Regions from separate parts of the Homo sapiens genome. Here region 2 is linked to region 1. The links come from fine-mapping of genetic effects on gene expression. A gene starts in region 1. The other region holds a variant in brackets. All regions are shown on one strand. Distances are between the middles of the regions.

What was found. PIP is the estimated chance that this variant, and not a neighbour inherited with it, causes the effect.
Region 2: its variant is the best candidate, but not a certain one, in a credible set for the expression of SHISAL1 in esophagus mucosa (GTEx, PIP 0.55).

Annotation. Positions count from the first base shown.
Region 1 is chr22:44,310,725-44,316,089 of GRCh38, forward strand. It overlaps SHISAL1 (shisa like 1), which reads right to left and starts at 2,227. Exons shown (of 5, transcript NM_001099294.2): 1 at 2,027-2,227. LOC101927499 (a long non-coding RNA gene) reads left to right here and starts at 2,287. Exons shown (of 2, transcript XR_244444.3): 1 at 2,287-2,419; 2 at 3,697-4,275.
Region 2 is chr22:44,287,090-44,292,454 of GRCh38, forward strand. The region is part of intron 3 of SHISAL1 (shisa like 1); the gene reads right to left. Among named protein-coding and RNA genes, the nearest start is that of SHISAL1, 23 kb to the right of the region's middle. RefSeq lists an enhancer at 2,795-3,738. The variant T/C (reference allele first, on the strand shown) is at 2,787.

The DNA of each region.
Region 1 (5,365 bases):
TTTGAACTCCATGTCTACGTCTGATTTCCCCAGTTCATCTTTCCGTGCTTTGCTTGTTCCTTTAGTTGGCACGGATTTCCCTCTGCCTTACCTGTTGGTTTACTGCTTCCCTGCCTAGTACAAGCTCTTCAAGGGTGGGAAATTTTGTGCCTCTGCATCGCCCCACCATGCTTTGCACACAGTAGGTGCTGAATAAATGTCTGCCGGCCATAGAGTAGGAACTCCATTAGCACTCGTTGGCCTGGTTTGTTTTATTGCAAAGAGCAAACTTCCAGATGGGAACAGCAGAGATCCAGGCAGGAGATCTCCTTCAACTGAGACATGGCCTCAACTTTTACGGCCACCACCGGGAGTGACCTTGGGCCATCAGCCCTGGGTGGAAGTCCCTTATTTTAGCCTAGAAACCCAACTCCAGGGCTCCAGTGGGACAGGTCCCCCTAAGTCCAGGGGAGCTGAGGTGGGCCGGCTCACACCCCCTGGGCCCTCACTGTCTCCCTACCAGGCGGGCATACCACTTGCTCCATGGGGCTGCTCTCAGGGTCAGGGCCACGAGGAGAAGCACACTGCCACGAAGGGTGCTGGCCTGGGTGCTGGAATTGGGAAGGCACGCAGGTGACCTCCAACGTGGAAACCTCTCCTATCTCCCCAGATCCCTCCCTCAGTGGATAACCATTCCAGTGTATCCCTAATAAGGCTCTTGTCCCTCACTGACACCTTTCCCTGCTGAATCCACCATGCCCCAGCCAGCTGGGCTCTGAGTCCAAGTTACAAACTCAGCTGTTTCAATGGTTCCCCCTTTTGAGCCCCTGGCCTGGGCCAGTTCTGCACCCATCAAAGTTCTCTGCATGTGCTACTGTCTCGAATGTTGGAAGTAGGCACCACTGTGATCCCATTTTACAGATGAGGAAGCTGAGGCCTGGGGAAAGGGGGACTTGAGCGAGAACACACAGCTGAAAGGGGCTTAGCTGGAAACCCCAACCCTGCTGAAGGCCCTAGATGCCCCACTGTCCTCCAGGGGGCCACACTGGGTCACAGGGCGAGGGGCTCAGGCCAGACTCAGTTTCCTCCCCTATTAAAGGGAGAGCTTGGCCGAGACAATCATGGGCCTTCTTCAGCTCAACAACCCTTTGTTTCTCTCTGTCCTCCTGAGTTATTTGGTTGCACCATGGAGATAAAACAACCCCTGGAAATCCCAGAGGCATTTTTTTCCCACTGGAGAAACACAAAAATATCACATGAAGAATGAATCACTTAAAGTGTCAGGGCAGGAAGAGGAAAGACAGGCATGGCGCTCGCCTCGGGGTGGGGGTGGCTCTGGGTTTCTCTTCAGCTCCCTCAGCCTCCCTGGTCCCCAGAACCCCTTCCTCACTGGAGTGAAGAGAAGCCAAAGCCCTAAGCCTCAGTTTCCCAATCTGTAAATGGGGACAACAAACCTGCCTTGAAGGCGTATTCGGAGGGGCCAATGCATTCATTTGTTCGTTCATTCATTCATTCATTCATCTATTCACTTATTTCGTACCGGTGTGATGCTGGACTGGGACTGCAGACTCTGAAGTGGGTCGAACAGACCCACCTCACCCCCGTGAAGCCAACCAAATGCCCTCCAGGCCATGACTAGGGCATCCTGAGAGCACTCCCTAGGCCATGCCGGACCCTCCCCCGAGCCTTTGGCCTTCTCTCCAACCCCTCTCTATGCAAGGCTCTTGACACAAGGACACTGAGGCACAGAGACGGTCAGCAACTTGCTCAAGGTCACACAGCAGGTAGGTAGTAGCACCAGCATCTGTGCACCCCCACAGGGCTCCCACCCCTCTAGATCAGAGCCTGCTCCCCATCTTGCCCCACTGGCATAGCCGTCACCCCGGCCCCTCCCATTCTTCTGTGACTAGGAGTCACTTAGCAGCCTTGCCTGGCTTCTCCCTTAGACCCAGTGCTTAGCCAGGGCAGGGACCCCAGGGTCAGCGTGAAGGAACAGAGGTGCCCCTGCACAGTGAGGACCTGGAAACCTCCACAGGCTGCTCCTTACCTGCCGAGCCCTGTGACTGAGGGATCAGAAGCCCCCTCCGCTGGCTGCGGTCTCCCTGCAGCTGCTGGCCTCTTCCCCGGCTCCTGGTTGCCACCAACCTTAAACCCCAATAAAAGGAGAGCAACTTGGTCGAGCCTTGTATAGGCAAAAGAGTGTTTTCCAGCGCAGGCTGGCCTCTGTGTGCTGACAAGAATTCAGTGTGCTCCTCAGGGCGGGGAGTGGGGCTAGGGCGCTGAGTCAGCCCTGCAGGAGTCCAGCTCCCGCCTGGGCCTAGGGCCGCCACCTCCCAGGCCCAGGATGGCAGCGGCTGCTCCCGCAGTCCCCACGCACTCCAGCCTCTGGTCTTACAGCCTTGTGCATCCTCAGAGCACCAGCAAGAGCCCCATTTTACAGGTGAGCAAACTAGAGACACTCCCTGTGAGATCCCACAGCTAGAAGCAGCAGGGGCTTAGACCCAGGGCACCGGGCTCCAGGTCCGCACCTCAGCAGATGCTTGGCACAATACATGTGGGTTCCCTCCCGTGGCCCTCAGTCTCTGTTGGGCAATGGAGGTCAGTGGCACCACTGCACAAGCCCCTCTGGCCAGCATGGCCCGGGGAGGGGTGTGGGTAAAACAAACGGTCCCCACACCAGCCCGGGGAGGAAGGGTAGCTGGGACCCGAGAGCCCACAGAGGGTGTGTGGCACCTGCCTGACTCCAAGCTGGGCTGATCTTCCTGCTGTTGCCCCCCTACCCCTGGCCTGTCCCCACCCAGCAGCAGAGGGTCCTCCCTGCCAGTAGGAATGGGGTGGGGATGGGGCAGGAACAGGGCGGGGGATGCCCACACCTGCCACTGTTCGAAACACATCAGTGGCTTCCATGACTGTCTGGACACAGCCCAGGGGCCTGGCTGGCCTCTGCAGCCACACTTCCTGGGTGCCAGGCACCCCCCCAGCCCATGGCCGTCTCCCACCCCTGGGCCTTCGTGCATCGTGGTACCTTGGCGGCGCCCTTGGCTGGCTTCTGGGTGGCATTTAAACGCAGCCATAAAGGAGGCCAGCCCTCCTCTGCCTCCCACCCATCCCTGGAAGCCTGCCCATCCTGAGCCAGGCCAGAAATAAACCTCCTTTTTCCATTCCTTTCGGTGGACAGAGAGCGAGTTCAGACTGGTCTGGGTGCCCCTCATCTAACCACGGTCCCAACAATGGCAGCCCAGAGCGATGGGTGCCACGATGGGAAACCAGGGGGCTATGGGCGCCCAGAGTGCCTGATGCAGCCTGACGGGGTAGGGGCCGGGAGTGGGGGTGGTATTTATTTAATCTTCATGATTAGGAGGGGCTGTGATTATCCCCAATTTACAGATGCGGAAACTGAGGTACAGAGTTTCAGTAACTCGTCCTGGGTCGCCTGGCTGGGGACTCAGACCAGGGGGTCTGGTGTGGACACCTGAAGGATGAGTCGGGCGGTGGGGCGGGGGTGGGGGTGGGGGAGTGTTCCTGGCAGAGGGAACAAGGCACACAAAGTTCCTCCTGCCTCTTGTCTGGGGCTCAGCATAGCAGCAGAGAAACAAAAGGGCTCTGAGCTTGGGGTTTGAACACGGGTTCAAGTCCCTTGCCGCTTCTCAGCTGTGTGATCCTGGGCATGTTTCTCTGTCTCTCTGAGCCTGGACTGCCCTGTGGATTTTGTTATAGTTCAAAGCAGACCTCCTGTGCACCAGATCTGGAACACCTATGACATAGAAAAGTATGGGTCCGCCAATGACATTTACTCCTTGCGATCCACCCTACGAGGCAGGAATTTTAAAAGTTCACCTTTGACAGAGGTTGGAAGCACAACAAAGACCAACCTGCCTGGCAGACCGGGGTGAGGGCTGCCTGGAGGGAAGGTGACCCCACCTCAGGGAGGCCACTGTGACCACATCCTCTTGCACAGTGGGTCTTTGCCTCAGCAACTGTGGGGGAGGAAAAGCACCAACATCCCCTCTCGGCCGAGGGGACCAGGCTCTAGAAAGCTCACAGCGGCGCTATGGAAAAACCTGGAGACAGCCCTGGAGACGGCCCAGTGGATGAATAGGAAAATGCATGGTGTTATGGCCAAACACCGGAACACTCTTCAGCTACCCAAATGCACTGCAGCCGCACAGAACATTACGGGGCATCTCAGCGCTATGAGGCTAGAGAGAAAGTAAAGTCTCCAAAGATGAAGTTCAGCACAGTACGCTTTCTAGAAGGCTAAAAAGAACTGTAAATAAAATGTTCTTTTTGAGAGTGCATCTGGCTATAGCAAGGCATACAGCGGGACGTGGGGTGAAGTGGGCCCTGCTTGGGAGCGCACAGGCTGACGTTCCTGCTCTCAGGCTGAGGGATGGGTCAAGGATGTTTCTTATATTATTAACAAACAAACAAGTAAATAAAGAAGTCTTGGCAAGGACTGCCGAGGGCGAATACCAGGAAGCAGGCAGAGACATGGGCCTGACTCCATGGCCTGGAGTCTGGAAAATAGAATAGAAAATCAAGGTTCAAAATATATGTAAAGAAAAATAATGATTACAGTACCCCCCAGCCCCCATCCATTGCACACAGGCCCACCCCTCTGGGCAGCTGAGACCCACACAGGGGCCTGGGTGGGGACTGCAGAAGCTGCTTTGGCCTGGCTGGGGGTCCCTGAGAAAGGAGCGTTTTTTTCCGGTTCACAGTCCCAGGCTGCTGGGTGTGGTGCCGGAACTGTCCAATTCCAGTAGGGAATCGGTGTGAATTCCCAGCCTCCTCCTACTGAGCCCACATACACCTCGTCCCTTTGAGACCCTCCCAGTTATAAACTCTCTGTGCCTCAGTTTCCCCATCTATAAACTGAGGACACCAGGCCATATAACATCCTCCTATATTTCCATGTTTGGAACTGAGCTGGTGGCCCCATGTCACCTGGGCCACAGAATCCCAATGCTGCTTCTTACGCTGTTGTTACCTGCCTGGCGGGTCACCTGCCTCGAGGAGGCTTGGTTTCTTCCTTTGTGGATGGTGCCATGCCTCCATCCTGGCCCCTCCAGGTCAAGGGGAGGATGACTGAGATGAAGAACACGCAGGGCCCTGCCTGAGCCACTGCTGGGGAGTTGCTGCCTCCTTCATAGGCTCACAGGCAGCAGTTCCCCGGCCTCAGGTGATTCCGCAATGGCAGGATGGGTCTCCATCCTGGCCCTCAAAGGATTCACAGTCCGGGGCAGGGAGGGGAGAGGCATTGCACAGTGTAAACCGCCCATATCGATGTGGAGCAGGGCAATGATAACCCCCCAGGGGCCAAGTGCTCTCTGCAGTGCCCGTGACAGACCTGGTCTCCCACACATCATGCTCCTGCAACAGGACA
Region 2 (5,365 bases), 24 kb before region 1:
CGGAACCCGGAGACCTGGTTCTAATTCTTCCTCTGCCTGGTTTGCTGTGTGGCCTGGGAAAACCCTTGCCTGTCTCTGGGCCTGGAGGAGATGAGCATGAGGCCTCTCCCAGTCTCGACTTCCAGGCTCCAGATCTTCCCAGGCTTAGGTCAGCCCTGGCGCCAGCAGTGGCCTCTGTAGGAAGATGGGGGCTGCTTCCCTTGGGCTCCTCTGGCCCTGACCAGGGCTGAGCCCAGGGCCGGGGAAGCTCGCTTTCGCTCTCTGCCTAGAATGCCTTCCCTCCTCTCACTTGGCCAAGTTCTTGGCCTGAAGATGCTGCTCGGGTGCCTGGGAGCTCCTGGCTGGGAGGTCTCTGCATGTCCTGAGCACATCCCATGAGCAGCTGTAGGCCAGTGCTTAGGCTTTGTAGCTGTAATCCCACAGCTCCCGGTCACTGTGCGTCCTTGCTGCCTCCTTGCCCCCACCTCCCAGCCCCCACCACCATGAAGCCTGCATCAGACTGATGGGCTCGCTCATGCTAAGGTGTAAATGACTGACAGCCAGGCCCCAGCGGCCTTATGTTAAAAAGAGACTGTTAAAGAGAGGCTAGCTTTTCCTGGAGGCATCTGGATATGGAATTCCTTCCAGGAATTCCAGGAAAAAGAGGCCTGCAGCCCCATCCAGTATGCTGGGGCAGGTGTCCCCGGGGTAGATGTCCATGTAGACCGAGGAGTCAGGCCTGGCTCCAGTTCCCAGGCCCTCCTGCTTTCCCCAGCACCCTCCCTGCTGCAGCCCCCACGGAATTGCTCTAAGTGCCAGGTTTTTCTTCGGTGGTTCCCATGGCAGCAGCCACGGGGGCTGAGGGAGGAGACGGGGAAAGGGGAGGCAGGGCAGCTGTGTGCAGATGCTGTCCGCAGAAGGGGTCCAGGATGCCAGCTGGGGGTGTGGCTGGGCCACAGGCTGGGCCTCGAACCACTGGGCCAAGAAATAATAGTACCAGAAGTGGCAGTGGACGCTCGTTCCCCTACCTGCTTCCCACGTTAGCCCATTTAATGCTCACGCAACCACGGGAGGAAACAGCTTTTTCATCATTGTCATCCCTGCTTTACGGATGGAAAACTGAGGCTCGGTGGAATTAAGAGACTTGCCTAAGAGCTCACAGCCATTAAGGGGCAGAAGCAGAATTTGAACTCAGCAGCTGAGCTCTAGAGTTGCGCTCCTCACCACTATAGCACACTGCCTTGGCTGCGGCCACCCGGGTTCTCAGGTAGAAAAGCTGCTCCAGGGGCCAGGCGCGGTGGCTCATGCCTGTAATCCCAGCACTTTGGGAGGCCGAGGCCGGTGGATCACAAGGTCAGGAGATCGAGACCATCCTGGCTAACACGGTGAAACCCCGTCTCTACTAAAAATTAAAAAAAAAAAAGTTGCTGGGTGTGGTGGCGGGCGCCTGTAATCCCAGCTACTCAGGAGGCTGAGGCAGGAGAATTGCGTGAATGCGGGAGGTGGAGCTTGCAGTAAGCTGAGATTGCGCCACTGCACCCCAGCCTGGGTGACAGAGCGAGACTCCGTCTCAAAAAAAGAAAAACAAAAAAGAAAAGAAATGCTGCTCCAGCCCAACATCTCTCTTGCCTGGAGGCCTTTGTCCATGCTGCACCTCTCTCCAGAACCCCTGCCTACCTCCTGCACACCCAGCTGGCCCTGGCACTGTGTCTTAGCCCAGATATCGCCTCCTCCAGGAAGCCTTCCTTGTCAGTCCAACCCCTACCCTGCATTCTCAAAGCCACTGGATTTCCCAGAACACACTGTTGTCTTTGTTGTTTTGTAGGACTGTCTGCCCCTGGAGATTGGGAGGGCCCTGAAGGCGGGGTTGGGGTTCAAATTGTCTTTATGAGCCCAGCACTCAGCCTTAGGCTGTAAATACTGACACCAACACATACTGACAGCTGAGAATGGGCTGGTGACAGTGGCTGCTTTGATACTAACTTCCCTGGAGTTTATAGGCTGCATGTCTTGTGCGCCAGCAGCTAATAAAAACACTGGCAATTGTTATGCGCCAGTGCCCTGTGCTTCTGAATCCGTGCAATGGCACCATGAGGGAGGAGCTAGTGTTCCCATGTCACACATGAGGAAATGAGACCCAGAGAGGCAAAGTCACTTGCCAAAGGCCACACAGCTGGTGAGTGGCAGCACTGGGAGCTGGACCCAGGTCCCTCTCTGACTTCAAGTGAGCTGATCTTGGGGGAATTCCATGGTTTAATCTAGGATAGATGTCCAAAGAGGGGTCCCCTGTACCTGCGTGGTGTGCCTGCTTGTCCCGGCCCACCCTCTACCAGGAACTGAGGGCGAGTCCCTGTCCTCCCTCCTTGGGGCACCGTGCAGATCAGTGTGTCATTGTAAATGTGTGTGTGTGTGTGTGTGTGTGTGTGTTTACTGCCGGGCTCCTGGCCTCTGCAGCCAGCTTGCTGCAATTGACACATGACATGACCCCCGGCCCTCCCAGCTCATCCTCCCTGTCAGGGAAGGGAGGGGCCTGCCTGCCGGGGGGTGTTGCCTTTGCTGATTCGCCCTTCCTTGTGAGGTGACCACCCTGGAGGTGGCAGGCGGGGACGCCCAGGCCATGGGCACTATGCTGAAACCACTCCCCTGGCCTGCCACGGCTGGCCCTCCCTGTGGTCAGCCAGCTGGGAAGATTCAGGTCTTTAAAAAACTTTTGTAAATGTAATGAAAAATATGTGACCTGGAAATTAATTCCATCCAGATGCAGGGGTCTTTGTTGTGTGGGTGTGTGTTTTGTAAATGGCAGAAGA[T/C]AAAAAACCAAAGGCTGTTTTATGGAGCAAGATGTGAAGGCAGCCAAAGCCGCAGATCGCAATTTTTTCAGTGTATTTTGGGATATTTACTGATTCAAATTCTTTTGGTGTTTCCCAAGCAGTAAACAAAACCTCTGATGGAGGAATCTCACTGAACGTCTTCCCGGGGCACAGGAGCAGATCCGTCAGCAGGAAGAGCAGCTGCAGCCAGTGTGGGGATGGAAGTCCCCATCACCACCCCACCAGGCAGTCACATTTGAGGGTGGAGGAGGAGAGTTCCTGAGGCCAGCAGGCCAGAACGAAACATCAGCTCAGCTGGAAGATGGCCGATGGCCCCTCTGCTAACCTCGTCTAAAAAATGGGAGTATGGCCTGCTGGGTGCAGTGGCTCACACCTGTAATCCCAGCACTCTGGGAGGCCGAAGTGGGTGGATCACCTGAGGTCAGGAGTTTGAGACCAGCCTGACTAATACGGAGAAACCCCGTCTCTACTAAAAACACAAAATTAGCTGGGCGTGGTGGCAGGCACCTGTAATCCCAGCTACTTGAGAGGCTGAGGCAGGGGAATTGCTTTAACCCGGGAGGCGGAGGTTGTGGTGAGCTGTGATTGTGCCATTGTACTCCAGCCTGGGCAACAAGAGGGAAACTCAGTCTCAAAAAAAAAAAAAAACAAAAAACGGGAGTATGGAGCCCATTGGCAGGAGTGGCCTCGGGTCCACGAGACAAGGTGGATGACTCTGGCGACTAAGGTGTGGGCTCAAGACGTCAAGGCTGTGTGAATCCGAATCCCAGCTTGGCAAAATTCTCTCTGTGATTTTGGGAAACTGAGCTTCAGTTTCCTTGTCTGTGAAATGGGGATACCTAGACCTCCTACTTCATGGTGTAAGTGTGAGGCTGTGAGATAACACGAGGGCCTGGAGAGAGACAGACCCCTGGAATGCTGGCTCGTGTGATTAAGGCACAGAGAGAGTGCTTAATAGGTCTAGACCCAGAGGCAAAGTGCCTCGCCCAAGGTCACACAGCAGGATTGAGGTTGTCTAGGGCAGTGGCGGTGTGTGGGCTTTGGGCCTGGATATACCTGGTGAAGCAGAGTCTATTACTATCAAAATACCACTGCGCCTGGCTGAGGGTGTTCCCAATAGGGTCAATCCCTCTGTCTCTCCTCACTCCACTGGTAACAGGCTTGGACAAGTGACGTGCTTTGGCCAATAAAACATGAGCAAAAATGCTGTGGCCACTTCTGAGCAGAAGCTTAGAGACACGACGTGTGTGGCTTCACCACTGCCTTCTCCTTCTACAGCAGGGCCATCCTACCCGGGATAGGGGCTGCTTCTACGGCCTTGTCACAGAATGCTTTACACATAGAACCAAAGAGCCCAAGAAGGACCCAGAGTATGAGCCAAAAGGAAGCCTTCGCTTCTCAAGCTCCCGGGACCTCTGAGGGTGCTCCTCTCCTTGGCATAACTAAGCCCAGGATGACCGATACGGCTGACCCAAACCCTGTTGTGTCCCCTGTGTGCTGTGTGGCTGCAGGCAGGGCTTCACCCTCTCTGAGCCTCAGCCCTAGTGAACGGGGCTAGTGGAAGGTCCTTCATAGATAACAGATGGAGGGTGTCAGCATGAGTCAGGCCCCTTGTGTTGGAGGAAGTCCTCATAAGTGTTCATTCACTTCCTTCCCCTGGGGAAGGGCAAAGCTTTGGGGGTCAGAGGTTTCACGCGTGGCCAAGGGAGGGACCACCGTCCATGCCTGCACATGCTAGGCCTTTGGGTGCACTGTTCTGTCCTCCTAGAGTCCCTCCCCACCTCCCACCCCCTGCAGCCCATCTGCCTGGTGAAGGAATGCCCATGCATTGTGGGAGATGCCACTCCCAGCCACCTCCTCCAGAGAGACTTTCCCTGTCCCCAGAGAGAACTGACCACATCCCCTGCACGCCCTGGCCCACCGCGACCCCCACACGGAGGCTTCCACAGATCGCCCAGGGACCTGAGTCTGAGTCGCCATTGCTGGTGTCTGGCAGTGCCCTGGCATGGGAAGGAGGGCAGTACACTTCTCACCACGTCAGGGCCCCTGCCCCACCCCTCTCTCTGCAGTCTCTCTATGGCCCACGTGGCTGGAAGCGGGCATCTCGCCGTGGTAGTGGGCTTGGCGAGGCTGCTTCCTCTCACTCTGCCTTCCTGCCAGGCAGCCAGAACCAAAACAAACCATTCTGTTCCTCCAGAAAAATACAAATAAATAAATCATCAGAAGCGCTCTCCTTTTCCCTGTCACCAGCCCCGCCTCCTGGCTGTTTCACCAGCAGGGAGGGCTGTGGCGGGGCGGGGGTCGGGGGAAGGGCGATGGGGGAGGACCAGGAGCTCTTGCATCTGCATAAAGCCCCTTCCGGGAGTCACATTGTCCTAGTCCATCTAGACGGGCTGCTGGTGAGTGCTAACCTGTCTAGGATACTGGAACATCCAGCCTTTTAGCTGGGGTCTGGTGCGGTCCCCAGTGGCACACAAGTCCTGGCCTTCTAGATGCACCAAGGGGTGGCAGAACCAGGGCTCCAGAGCCCCTCAGATCTTGACACCAGTTGTTATCAC